Linked DNA regions of Homo sapiens. The protein of the gene in region 2 purifies or fractionates together with the protein of the main gene of each other region. This does not show direct contact. Each region holds a gene or a part of one and is shown on either strand. Other genes may lie near its edges.

Region 1 (7,027 bases), on a different chromosome or scaffold from region 2:
TTTCTCTTGGGGTTGAAATTAAGACTCTTAAAGAACAGCTAAATTTATTATCCAGAGCTGAGGAAGCAAAAAAAGAGCAGGTGGAAGAAGATAATGAAGTTTCTTCTGGCCTTAAACAAAATTATGATGAGATGAGCCCAGCAGGACAAATAAGTAAGGAAGAACTTCAGCATGAATTTGACCTTCTGAAGAAAGAAAATGAGCAGAGAAAGAGAAAGCTCCAGGCAGCTCTTATTAACAGAAAGGAGCTTCTGCAAAGAGTCAGTAGATTGGAAGAAGAATTAGCCAACTTGAAAGATGAATCTAAGAAAGAAATCCCACTCAGTGAGACTGAGAGGGGAGAAGTGGAAGAAGATAAAGAAAACAAAGAATACTCAGAAAAATGTGTGACTTCTAAGTGCCAAGAAATAGAAATTTATTTAAAACAGACAATATCTGAGAAAGAAGTGGAACTACAGCATATAAGGAAGGATTTGGAAGAAAAGCTGGCAGCTGAAGAGCAATTCCAGGCTCTGGTCAAACAGATGAATCAGACCTTGCAAGATAAAACAAACCAAATAGATTTGCTCCAAGCAGAAATCAGTGAAAACCAAGCAATTATCCAGAAGTTAATCACAAGTAACACGGATGCAAGTGATGGGGACTCCGTAGCACTTGTAAAGGAAACAGTGGTGATAAGTCCACCTTGTACAGGTAGTAGTGAACACTGGAAACCAGAACTAGAAGAAAAGATACTGGCCCTTGAAAAAGAAAAGGAGCAACTTCAAAAGAAGCTACAGGAAGCCTTAACCTCCCGCAAGGCAATTCTTAAAAAGGCACAGGAGAAAGAAAGACATCTCAGGGAGGAGCTAAAGCAACAGAAAGATGACTATAATCGCTTGCAAGAACAGTTTGATGAGCAAAGCAAGGAAAATGAGAATATTGGAGACCAGCTAAGGCAACTCCAGATTCAAGTAAGGGAATCCATAGACGGAAAACTCCCAAGCACAGACCAGCAGGAATCGTGTTCTTCCACTCCAGGTTTAGAAGAACCTTTATTCAAAGCCACAGAACAGCATCACACTCAACCTGTTTTAGAGTCCAACTTGTGCCCAGACTGGCCTTCTCATTCTGAAGATGCGAGTGCTCTGCAGGGCGGAACTTCTGTTGCCCAGATTAAGGCCCAGCTGAAGGAAATAGAGGCTGAGAAAGTAGAGTTAGAATTGAAAGTTAGTTCTACAACAAGTGAGCTTACTAAAAAATCAGAAGAGGTATTTCAGTTACAAGAGCAGATAAATAAACAGGGTTTAGAAATCGAGAGTCTAAAGACAGTATCCCATGAAGCTGAAGTCCATGCCGAAAGCCTGCAGCAGAAATTGGAAAGCAGCCAACTACAAATTGCTGGCCTAGAACATCTAAGAGAATTGCAACCTAAACTGGATGAACTGCAAAAACTCATAAGCAAAAAGGAAGAAGACGTTAGCTACCTTTCTGGACAACTTAGTGAGAAAGAAGCAGCTCTCACTAAAATACAGACAGAGATAATAGAACAAGAAGATTTAATTAAGGCTCTGCATACACAGCTAGAAATGCAAGCCAAAGAGCATGATGAGAGGATAAAGCAGCTACAGGTGGAACTTTGTGAAATGAAGCAAAAACCAGAAGAGATTGGAGAAGAAAGTAGAGCAAAGCAACAAATACAAAGGAAACTGCAAGCTGCCCTTATTTCCCGAAAAGAAGCACTAAAAGAAAACAAAAGTCTCCAAGAGGAATTGTCTTTGGCCAGAGGTACCATTGAACGTCTCACCAAGTCTCTGGCAGATGTGGAAAGCCAAGTTTCTGCTCAAAATAAAGAAAAAGATACGGTCTTAGGAAGGTTAGCTCTTCTTCAAGAAGAAAGAGACAAACTCATTACAGAAATGGACAGGTCTTTATTGGAAAATCAGAGTCTCAGCAGCTCCTGTGAAAGTCTAAAACTAGCTCTAGAGGGTCTTACTGAAGACAAGGAAAAGTTAGTGAAGGAAATTGAATCTTTGAAATCTTCTAAGATTGCAGAAAGTACTGAGTGGCAAGAGAAACACAAGGAGCTACAAAAAGAGTATGAAATTCTTCTGCAGTCCTATGAGAATGTTAGTAATGAAGCAGAAAGGATTCAGCATGTGGTGGAAGCTGTGAGGCAAGAGAAACAAGAACTGTATGGCAAGTTAAGAAGCACAGAGGCAAACAAGAAGGAGACAGAAAAGCAGTTGCAGGAAGCTGAGCAAGAAATGGAGGAAATGAAAGAAAAGATGAGAAAGTTTGCTAAATCTAAACAGCAGAAAATCCTAGAGCTGGAAGAAGAGAATGACCGGCTTAGGGCAGAGGTGCACCCTGCAGGAGATACAGCTAAAGAGTGTATGGAAACACTTCTTTCTTCCAATGCCAGCATGAAGGAAGAACTTGAAAGGGTCAAAATGGAGTATGAAACCCTTTCTAAGAAGTTTCAGTCTTTAATGTCTGAGAAAGACTCTCTAAGTGAAGAGGTTCAAGATTTAAAGCATCAGATAGAAGGTAATGTATCTAAACAAGCTAACCTAGAGGCCACCGAGAAACATGATAACCAAACGAATGTCACTGAAGAGGGAACACAGTCTATACCAGGTGAGACTGAAGAGCAAGACTCTCTGAGTATGAGCACAAGACCTACATGTTCAGAATCGGTTCCATCAGCGAAGAGTGCCAACCCTGCTGTAAGTAAGGATTTCAGCTCACATGATGAAATTAATAACTACCTACAGCAGATTGATCAGCTCAAAGAAAGAATTGCTGGATTAGAGGAGGAGAAGCAGAAAAACAAGGAATTTAGCCAGACTTTAGAAAATGAGAAAAATACCTTACTGAGTCAGATATCAACAAAGGATGGTGAACTAAAAATGCTTCAGGAGGAAGTAACCAAAATGAACCTGTTAAATCAGCAAATCCAAGAAGAACTCTCCAGAGTTACCAAACTAAAGGAGACAGCAGAAGAAGAGAAAGATGATTTGGAAGAGAGGCTTATGAATCAATTAGCAGAACTTAATGGAAGCATTGGGAATTACTGTCAGGATGTTACAGATGCCCAAATAAAAAATGAGCTATTGGAATCTGAAATGAAGAACCTTAAAAAGTGTGTGAGTGAATTGGAAGAAGAAAAGCAGCAGTTAGTCAAGGAAAAAACTAAGGTGGAATCAGAAATACGAAAGGAATATTTGGAGAAAATACAAGGTGCTCAGAAAGAACCCGGAAATAAAAGCCATGCAAAGGAACTTCAGGAACTGTTAAAAGAAAAACAACAAGAAGTAAAGCAGCTACAGAAGGACTGCATCAGGTATCAAGAGAAAATTAGTGCTCTGGAGAGAACTGTTAAAGCTCTAGAATTTGTTCAAACTGAATCTCAAAAAGATTTGGAAATAACCAAAGAAAATCTGGCTCAAGCAGTTGAACACCGCAAAAAGGCACAAGCAGAATTAGCTAGCTTCAAAGTCCTGCTAGATGACACTCAAAGTGAAGCAGCAAGGGTCCTAGCAGACAATCTCAAGTTGAAAAAGGAACTTCAGTCAAATAAAGAATCAGTTAAAAGCCAGATGAAACAAAAGGATGAAGATCTTGAGCGAAGACTGGAACAGGCAGAAGAGAAGCACCTGAAAGAGAAGAAGAATATGCAAGAGAAACTGGATGCTTTGCGCAGAGAAAAAGTCCACTTGGAAGAGACAATTGGAGAGATTCAGGTTACTTTGAACAAGAAAGACAAGGAAGTTCAGCAACTTCAGGAAAACTTGGACAGTACTGTGACCCAGCTTGCAGCCTTTACTAAGAGCATGTCTTCCCTCCAGGATGATCGTGACAGGGTGATAGATGAAGCTAAGAAATGGGAGAGGAAGTTTAGTGATGCGATTCAAAGCAAAGAAGAAGAAATTAGACTCAAAGAAGATAATTGCAGTGTTCTAAAGGATCAACTTAGACAGATGTCCATCCATATGGAAGAATTAAAGATTAACATTTCCAGGTAAATGAGTAGTGAATTTTTCCTCCTCCAGAGGTAACTTCAAGCAAAGAAAGTCTCTAAACTATTTCTGTTTCCTTTTAGACAATGGGACTAATTTTGGCATAAATGTCCATGGAAGATATATTCTCTCTCACTTCTGACTTTTTTTTGGCAAACAACAATCCTGCTACAACTGCATGAACATGAAAAGTTCGCATCTTCTCTTCCCATCTTTCTATTGAGAGATTTCTGTACTTCTGTTTTGTTTTGTTTAAGATGGAGTCTTGCTCTTGTCACCCAGGCTGGAATGCAATGGCACGATTTTGGCTCACTGCAACCTCTGCCTCCTGGGTTCAAGCAATTCTCCTGCCTCAGCCTCCCGAGTAGCTGGGATTACAGGAGCCTACCAACACGCCCAGCTAATTTTTTGTATTTTTAGTAGAGAGGGGGTTTCACCATGTTGGCCAGGCTGGTCTCGAACTCCTGACCTCAGGTGATCCACCCACCTCGGCCTCCCAAAGTGCTGGGATTACAGGCATGAGCCATTGCACCTGGCCTCTGTATTTCTTTTCATTTCCATTTCAACTACTCTTGCCTGGATTTTTACCACAGTACTCTCAAATTAATTGTCTAGTCTCGTCTTTTCTTCTTCCTTTAGTCCACATTAATTCATACTGCATATACCTCTTAGAGTTATTTTTTCTCAAATTTCAATTTTCTGTCACTTTTTAATCTATAGAACTAATAATGTCTCTCATCCTTTGTATTCCTTACTTCCAATAGGACCCTTCTGTTCTAAAACAGATTTTCTCACTGTCTTTCATATCAAGATTATCCCTTAGAGAAGCCAAACGTTAGCTTGTCTGGAGCAAAGTAGAATAAAATAGGAGAAAATGTTACTTTTCAGTGTTGAAAACCATGTCACTAAAATAAGTGACATATTTTGGAGTTTATGACTTAAATATATGAACCCTTAAGTATGATATACCTTTAATACATAGCACTCAGTAGATAAACATGTAGGTGCAGAGAATTAATACCTCTTCAGTAAAATATTTAACACCTGTTATGAATGTTAATTCATTTGTAAATCTATTGAGTACATGTTATAGTATTTGTTCCTTGGGAAACACAGTTTTTTTCTTGAAATCTGTAACTAATGACCTTCTCTCTGTTTCAGGCTTGAACATGACAAGCAGATTTGGGAGTCCAAGGCCCAGACAGAGGTCCAGCTTCAGCAGAAGGTCTGTGATACTCTACAGGGGGAAAACAAAGAACTTTTGTCCCAGCTAGAAGAGACACGCCACCTATACCACAGTTCTCAGAATGAATTAGCTAAGTTGGAATCAGAACTTAAGAGTCTCAAAGACCAGTTGACTGATTTAAGTAACTCTTTAGAAAAATGTAAGGAACAAAAAGGAAACTTGGAAGGGATCATAAGGCAGCAAGAGGCTGATATTCAAAATTCTAAGTTCAGTTATGAACAACTGGAGACTGATCTTCAGGCCTCCAGAGAACTGACCAGTAGGCTGCATGAAGAAATAAATATGAAAGAGCAAAAGATTATAAGCCTGCTTTCTGGCAAGGAAGAGGCAATCCAAGTAGCTATTGCTGAACTGCGTCAGCAACATGATAAAGAAATTAAAGAGCTGGAAAACCTGCTGTCCCAGGAGGAAGAGGAGAATATTGTTTTAGAAGAGGAGAACAAAAAGGCTGTTGATAAAACCAATCAGCTTATGGAAACACTGAAAACCATCAAAAAGGAAAACATTCAGCAAAAGGCACAGTTGGATTCCTTTGTTAAATCCATGTCTTCTCTCCAAAATGATCGAGACCGCATAGTGGGTGACTATCAACAGCTGGAAGAGCGACATCTCTCTATAATCTTGGAAAAAGACCAACTCATCCAAGAGGCTGCTGCAGAGAATAATAAGCTTAAAGAAGAAATACGAGGCTTGAGAAGTCATATGGATGATCTCAATTCTGAGAATGCCAAGCTAGATGCAGAACTGATCCAATATAGAGAAGACCTGAACCAAGTGATAACAATAAAGGACAGCCAACAAAAGCAGCTTCTTGAAGTTCAACTTCAGCAAAATAAGGAGCTGGAAAATAAATATGCTAAATTAGAAGAAAAGCTGAAGGAATCTGAGGAAGCAAATGAGGATCTGCGGAGGTCCTTTAATGCCCTACAAGAAGAGAAACAAGATTTATCTAAAGAGATTGAGAGTTTGAAAGTATCTATATCCCAGCTAACAAGACAAGTAACAGCCTTGCAAGAAGAAGGTACTTTAGGACTCTATCATGCCCAGTTAAAAGTAAAAGAAGAAGAGGTACACAGGTTAAGTGCTTTGTTTTCCTCCTCTCAAAAGAGAATTGCAGAACTGGAAGAAGAATTGGTTTGTGTTCAAAAGGAAGCTGCCAAGAAGGTAGGTGAAATTGAAGATAAACTGAAGAAAGAATTAAAGCATCTTCATCATGATGCAGGGATAATGAGAAATGAAACTGAAACAGCAGAAGAGAGAGTGGCAGAGCTAGCAAGAGATTTGGTGGAGATGGAACAGAAATTACTCATGGTCACCAAAGAAAATAAAGGTCTCACAGCACAAATTCAGTCTTTTGGAAGGTCTATGAGTTCCTTGCAAAATAGTAGAGATCATGCCAATGAGGAACTTGATGAACTGAAAAGGAAATATGATGCCAGTCTGAAGGAATTGGCACAGTTGAAAGAACAGGGACTCTTAAACAGAGAGAGAGATGCTCTTCTTTCTGAAACCGCCTTTTCAATGAACTCCACTGAGGAGAATAGCTTGTCTCACCTTGAGAAACTTAACCAACAGCTCCTATCCAAAGATGAGCAATTGCTTCACTTGTCCTCACAACTAGAAGATTCTTATAACCAAGTGCAGTCCTTTTCCAAGGCTATGGCCAGTCTGCAGAATGAGAGAGATCACCTGTGGAATGAGCTGGAGAAATTTCGAAAGTCAGAGGAAGGGAAGCAGAGGTCTGCAGCTCAGCCTTCCACCAGCCCAGCTGAAGTACAGA
Region 2 (7,027 bases):
CTGCTGTCCTTGTATTGTGTGTCCTAATTTTATTCTCCACCCACACCCCTTCCCCATCAAATTTGTTTTATAGAATAAATGTGTTTTTATATATCTTTGTCCCTCTTGTATAATCTTTTGATAATTGTCTACTTTCATTTTTGTGACATGTTCCTCTATGCGGAATGATACTAGTGAGTTTTTGCCAATAAATCCAATGTATGTAACTTGGAGCATTAGCTAGATTAACTTTTTGGTATGGTAAGACATCCTATAGCAGCAACAGATTTTAGCCCACAGTGTGATTAGGCTATTTGAATGGATGAAATTTGCTGTATTTGGATTTAATCTTCTAATCCAGTTTTTGTCTTTGGGGATGGTTGGAACATAGTCATCATAATGAGAACTATCAATTGTCTTTCATAGATAGTGTCTCTATCTTCCCAGTTTCTGTAAGTTCTCTTCCTGAGTGTTATTTGCTGCCTATTCTTACTACTTTTCTTATTTTAGATCACAGATTCTGCTGGCCATATTCTCTACTCCAAAGAGGATGCAACCAAGGGGAAATTTGCCTTTACCACTGAAGATTATGACATGTTTGAAGTGTGTTTTGAGAGCAAGGGTGAGTAATCAAGAGTGTTTCTCTGGATTAAGAATCTTCTCCAACTCTAATGCTCCTTAATACAGTCAGCACTTAATATCTAGTTTCATTTGTATTCTTTATTTATTCTGATTTGGAGACCTGTTACCTTGTAGTCTTTGGAGCACCTTTTAAAAGGTCGACTACATGGAATAAAAGATTGAATAGGTGGAACAGAGAGAATTTTTAGGGCAGTAAAAATATTCTGTATGATACTGTAATAGTGGATACATGTCATTATATGGTTGTCCGAACATTACATTTGGAATGTACACCAAGAGTGAATCCTAATGTAAACTGTGGACTTTGGTAGATAGTGATGTGTCCATGTAGGTTCATCATTTGTAATGAATGTACCACTCTGGTGGGAAATGGTGATAATGGGGGAGGCTATGCATATGTAAGAGGAAGGGGGATATGGGAAATCTTTGTGCCTTCCTCTCAGTTTTGTTGTGAACCTAAAACTGCTCTAACAAAGTGAAGTCTTAAAAAAAAGGCTGGGCATGGTGGCTCATGCCTGTAATCCCAGCACTTTGGGAGGCCAAGGCAGGCAGATCACTGAAGGTTAGGAGTTTGAGACCAGCCTGGCCAACATGGTGAAACCCTGTCTCTACTAAAAATACAAAATTAGCTGGGCATGGTGGCTCGTGCCTGTAACCCTAGCTGCTCAGGAGGCTGAGGCAGGAGAATCACTTAAACCCAGGAGGTGGAGGTTGCAGTGAGCAAGATTGTGTCACTGCACTCCAGCCTGGGTGACAGAGTGAGACTCCATCTCAAAAAAATAAACAACAACAACAACAAAAAAAACTGGCCGGGCGCAGTGACTCACGCTTGTAATCCCAGCAGTTGGGAGGCCGAGGCGGGCGGATCACCTGAGGCCAGGAGTTTGAGACCAGCCTGGCCAACATGGCGAAACCCCATCTCTACTAAAAATACAAAAATTAGCCAGATGTGGTGGTGGCACATGCCTGTAATCCCAGCTACTCGGGAGGCTGAGGCAGGAGAATTGTTTGAACCCAGGAGGCAGAGATTGCAGTGAGCCAAGATCGTACCACTGCACTGCAGCCTGGGTGACAGAGCGAGACTCTGTCTCAAAACAAACAAAAAGGATTGTCTGTTTGCCAGGCAAATGCAGAGAGAAAAATTATGAAGGGTCCTTTTACAAAGGAGACTCTTTAGGGCTATGATGTCAGCTAAGAGGATAGGCTGACAGTTCTATGCAAGAGACTGTATAGTCTGGACTCGACCATTCTGAGAAATGGTGGTTAGGTGATTTCGTTGTGCAAATATTAAGTGTACTTACACAAACCTAGATGTTATAGCCTACTACCCACCTCGGCTATATGGTATAGCCTACTACTGCTCCTAGGCTACAAAGCTGTAAAGCATGTGACTGTACTGAATACTGTAGGCAGTTAGAACACAATGCTATTTGTGTATCTAAACATAGAAAAGATATAGTAAAAATACAGTATTATAATAATCTTATGGGACCACCTTCATATATGCAGTCTGTCCTCGACTGAACTGTCTTCATGTAGTGCATGACTGTACTGTGCTGTGACAATCAGGGAGGTAGTTGGAAGACCTTGTAAGAAAGAAGATATCCTGATCATTTGGACCAGGTGGGGCTGTGAACTGCTTAAGTTTCACAACTTTTTCAATGAGGAAGTACATCTTCCATGGACAATGTCGTAATCAGGATTACACATTGGATTTGGGAGAACAGAACACTCTGGGTGCCACATTTTGTTTTGTTTTGTTTGAAGACTTGTTGTTTTCATGCTCAGAAGACACATGTGACTTGTCTTACTTTGTTCTCAGTCTTACCCTGTGCAGTCTTATTTATATTTCTCTTGCTTTCGAGTTAATCTTTCCAGTCTATCCAAAAGAAGTCCTTTTTTTGTGTGTGTGTGAAACAAGAGTCTTGCTCTGTCACCCAGGCTGGAGTGCAGTGGTGCGATCTTGGCTCACTGCAACTTTACCGGGTTCAAGTGATTCTCATGCCTCAGCCTCCGGAGTAGCTGGAACTACAGGCACGCACCACTGCGCCTGGCTAATTTGTGTATTTTTAGTAGAGACGGGTTTCATCATGTTGGCCAAGCTGGTCTCGAACTCGAACCTCAAGAGATCCACCTGCCTTGGCCTCCCAAAGTGCTGGGATTACAGGCATGAGCCACCGTGCCCATCCCAAAAGAAGTTCTTTACTGTCTTTCAAGCATGCCATACTCCGATTTTAATATCTGAGCCTTTGCTCATGCTTTGCCGTCTGCCTAGAGTACTTTGCCTAAGTCCTGCCTTTAGGTGTTCCCTTTTTAGTGAAGTCTGTCCACAACTACAATCTTCTCTCCTCTTCCCTTTGCTCCATATTGGAATTGTCTGAACCAGTTCCTTTGGCTTAAACTTTTACAGTGCTTTGCATTTTCACCATAGTTGTTTTGTGTATATGTCTTAGATCCCAATTGAATTATTTGAAGGCAGGGATTGTATCCTGGCTTAGTCCATTTTGTGCTGCTATAACAGAACATCGCAGAGTGGGTATAAACAGTAGAAATTTGTTTGGTTCATGGTTCTGGAGTCTGGAAAGTCCAAGATCAAGGGGCCACATCTGGTGAGGGCCTTTTTGCTGTGTCACAATAACATGGCAGAAGGTATCACATGGCAAGAGAATGCACAGGAGAGCAAGAAGGGGCTGAACTCACTTTTATAACAAACCTACTTCTATGATAATGACATTAAATCTATTGATGAGGGCAGAGCCCCATGACCTAGTCAATTCTTAAAGGTCCTACTTCTCCGCCAGGCACAGTGGCTCATGCCTATAATCCCAGCACTTTGGGAGGCTGAGGCAGGAGGATCGCTTGAGCCCAGGAGTTCCAGATCAGCCTGGACAGTATAGCGAGACCCTGTCTCTACAAAAAATACAAAAATTACCTGGGTGTGGTGGCTCACGCCTGTAGTCCCAGCTACTTGAAAGACTGAAGTGGGAGGATTGCTTGAGCCCAGGAGTTCGAGGCTACAGTGAGCCATGATGGTGCGTGCCACTGCACTCCAGCTTGGAAGACAAGAGTAAGAACCTGTCTCAAAAAATTTTTTTTAATTAAATAAATAAAATTAAAGGTTTTACCTCTCAACACTGTTGCATTGGGGATTAAGTTTCCAACACATGAACTTTGAGAGGGGCACATCGAAGCCGTAGCATATCTCTTTAAAATCTCCAGCACAGTTTTAGTACTTAGTGAGTTTTCAATGAGTAGTTATTGAATTGACTTCAGTTCATTTCAGAAAACTTCCAGTGTCTCTCAGGCATCAGAGGGTACAGTACCATTCAGTGTGGCTTATGGTTTCAGGAACCCCAGTGCTTCAGTGGCACTGTTTCCCACAACTTCTAATTTCATGCAGGCAGTTGTAAATTTTATAACTAGGTGAATTCCAGGGGATTGGGGCTGAACAGTTTTCTGGGGCTCCTTGGGTCTTTTCCTTTCTCCTACTTGATGATTTAAGATTAGAATGCTTCTTTGATCCAGCTGAATCAGATTGACTCTTCTAACATGAACTCTATTATAAGAAGCATCCCTGAGATTTGAACACTTAAAGTTGTTTTTTTTTTTTCCTTGAGCTGTTGTAACTCTTTTAAGGGCTTAGTGGGAATAGCTCTATGACATTGTACTCCTACTGAACTAGGCCATACATTGATCAAAATGTTTGAATTAAAGTGGAATATTAGATAAAACTTATGTTCTTTTCAGTACTCAGATTTATATTAAGTAAATCCAAGCTTAGCACATATCCAATAATCCTAATTCATCATGGCCTTCCCTCAAAATTTGACAGGGCAACCTTTTCAGATGTGGAAATACACATTTTCAGCCGAAGTTGTTGCCTACTATCTCTTGATTTATATGCCACTCAATTTCACACTGTTTTGATTTTTGAGTTTTATTTCCCAATTCAATAAGCCTGTGTGGTTTCCCTTCTGTTCTGTTCCTCTGTAGTACCAGTTGCAGTATCTTGTGTCCTTGCCTGCTCAGAGATGTTTGCCAGCAGCATGTTCTTGTTGCTTTCCGGCACCCCACACAGATAGAGGCTTTGTCTGGAATGTTTGTGATTTTAGCCAGAGCCAGGAATTTTCTGCAACTGAGCAGGGGGAGGAGTTGTGGCTGTTTCCCTCTATTGAGAGGGTAGGGGTTCTGTAGAGGGAGGGCGGGCGGGTGGGTGGGTAATTTCCCAGAATTTTAAGTATTTCACACAATGATTCCTTTGATTTCTTTCTCAGGAACAGGGCGGATACCTGACCAACTCGTGATCCTAGACATGAAGCATGGAGTGGAGGCGAAAAATTACGAAGAGGTATGTCCTGCTCTAACAGCCAGAGGAGGCAGCAGTGTGCTATGCTGTGAGGTTTCTGTGACCTCGGCAGGCCAACAGGCTGTGCTTTGCCCAAAGGGCTGTGGTTTCTTAGCAGTCTTGTGACAGCCAGCCATGATCTTACTGATACAAAAAGTGGTATTAACAGCCTTAGCCGGGCGCGGTGGCTCACTCCTGTAATCCCAGCACTTTGGGAGGCCAAGGCGGGTGGATCGCCTGAGGTCAGGAGTTCGATACCAGCCTGGTCAACATGGTGACACCAAGTTTCTACTAAAAATACAAAAATTAGCCAGGAGTGGTGGCGTGCGCCTGTAATCCCAGCTAGTCTACTCGGGAGGCTGAGGCAGGAGAATTGCTGGAACCTGGGGGGCAGAGGCTGCAGTGAGCCGAGATCGTGCCACTGCACTCCAGCCTGGGCGACAGGGCAAGGCTCCATCTCAAAAAAAAAAAAAAAAAAAAACAGCCTTGAAGAATAATTCTGGCTGTGCTGTCAGCCAAAGACTGAACAAACTGTCCCACAGAATGTTGGTTTGATAAAACACTGAAGCATATGGCATTAGTTCTCTTGAACTGTGTGTGTGTAGAGAGAGATATTTTAAATTTTTTAAAGCTGGAATTCAGTTATTTGTTAATGCCCAAGGTTAAGAAAAGTGATTTGTTTTTAATTCCTAAGACTTTTTCCCCAAGACCAACAGTTGTATATCTATCTATCTATCTATCTATCTATCTATCTATCTGGGGCATGGATTCAGTGCTGTTTAGTCTTGAACAACTGTTTTGTGTTTGGGAAATAACAATAGTCAAAGATAGTTTTTAGTTAAAATAATTTCAAACTTTCAAGGAAGAGGGCAGGATGGAGGAAAAAGCTGCAAGAGACTAGGAATGGTGATAATAGAAATTTGATGCTGATAAGAAGTTATTTATTATAGACTAATAAAAACTGACACTTATTTGGGTGACAGGGAGATGGAGGTGTACACAGAATGAGGAGAAGGACAACAGCCTTTTTCATCTCTGCGAGACTTGGGGGCAGCACAAAAGGGTTCTTCAAATGAAGGGCACCTTTGAAAAACCACAAGAACTATTTAAGACTAGATAATTGATCTTTACAGAAAGATAAGAGTATTTTTACCCAACAAAACAGTACGTAAGGGCATGAAGGAGGAGTGGGGTACAGGAAATAGAATGGGCTTTTGAAGAATGCAAACTAAGTAAATGAAGGAAAATTGGTTTAAGTGATTTAGGAAAATTGTCTAGGAATAGTGGAACAGAAGTTGCTCTCTCTTTGGACAGCACTTTGGAAGGGAAATATCCTAAAATGGAAGAAGATTGGAAATGACTGGTTAATTCTGCAACAGGAAGTAGTACAACAGTTGCAGCTCTTTCCTTGTTCAAATCCTCAATTGAATGAAACTAGGTAGCGTTATTTAGAGGCAGTAAATAGGAGCAAGTGATACAGTTGTGAATGGGAGACAGTTTCCGGTAGAGAATTTTCAATTGTTTGTTTCTGTTTCCAGGCTAGTTTAATTTAAATAAATAAAACAAGAAGACCTCTTTATTTGATGAACTTGAGTAAATTGAAAAATTTTTTTAAACCTTCATGATTCAGAAGAATCTTAATTATATTTAAATAAGATTATGTTAAAGTGCTTTTATAAGATATAAAACACTAGGGAGAATGTTCTCATTATTATAAGGTAGAAGAATAGGTAAAATGATTTCCAGTTTGTGGTTACTGCTTCTGTTCCCGAACTGTGGACCATTCTCAGTTGAATTTGTACTCTGTGGAATTTTACCTATTGTAATCTTTTTCTCCAACATGATGCCTGTCATTAAGGGTATTTATTTATTTATTTATTGAGATGGAGTCTCGCTTGGTTGCCCAGGCTGGAGTGCAGTGGCGGGATCTCTGCTCACTGCAAGCTCCGCCTCCCGGGTTCACGCCATTCTCCTGCCTCAGCCTCCCGAGTAGCTGGGACTACAGGCACCCATCACCACGCCCAGCTAATTTTTTGTATTTTTAGTAGAGACGGGGTTTCA

The links. The genes of interacting proteins can lie anywhere in the genome.
Region 1: the proteins of TMED10 (region 2) and GOLGB1 purify together in Homo sapiens (affinity purification with mass spectrometry; 4 studies listed by BioGRID and IntAct, with this or other methods). This does not show direct contact.

The regions. Positions count from the first base shown.
Region 1 is NC_000003.12:121,690,717-121,697,743, reverse strand, and holds part of GOLGB1 (golgin subfamily B member 1), read left to right. Parts: coding exon 1-4,003; intron 4,004-5,162; coding exon 5,163-7,027. UniProt on the Homo sapiens protein: May participate in forming intercisternal cross-bridges of the Golgi complex.
Region 2 is NC_000014.9:75,145,606-75,152,632, reverse strand, and holds part of TMED10 (transmembrane emp24 domain-containing protein 10 precursor), read left to right. Parts: intron 1-489; coding exon 490-601; intron 602-4,895; coding exon 4,896-4,969; intron 4,970-7,027. UniProt on the Homo sapiens protein: Cargo receptor involved in protein vesicular trafficking and quality control in the endoplasmic reticulum (ER) and Golgi.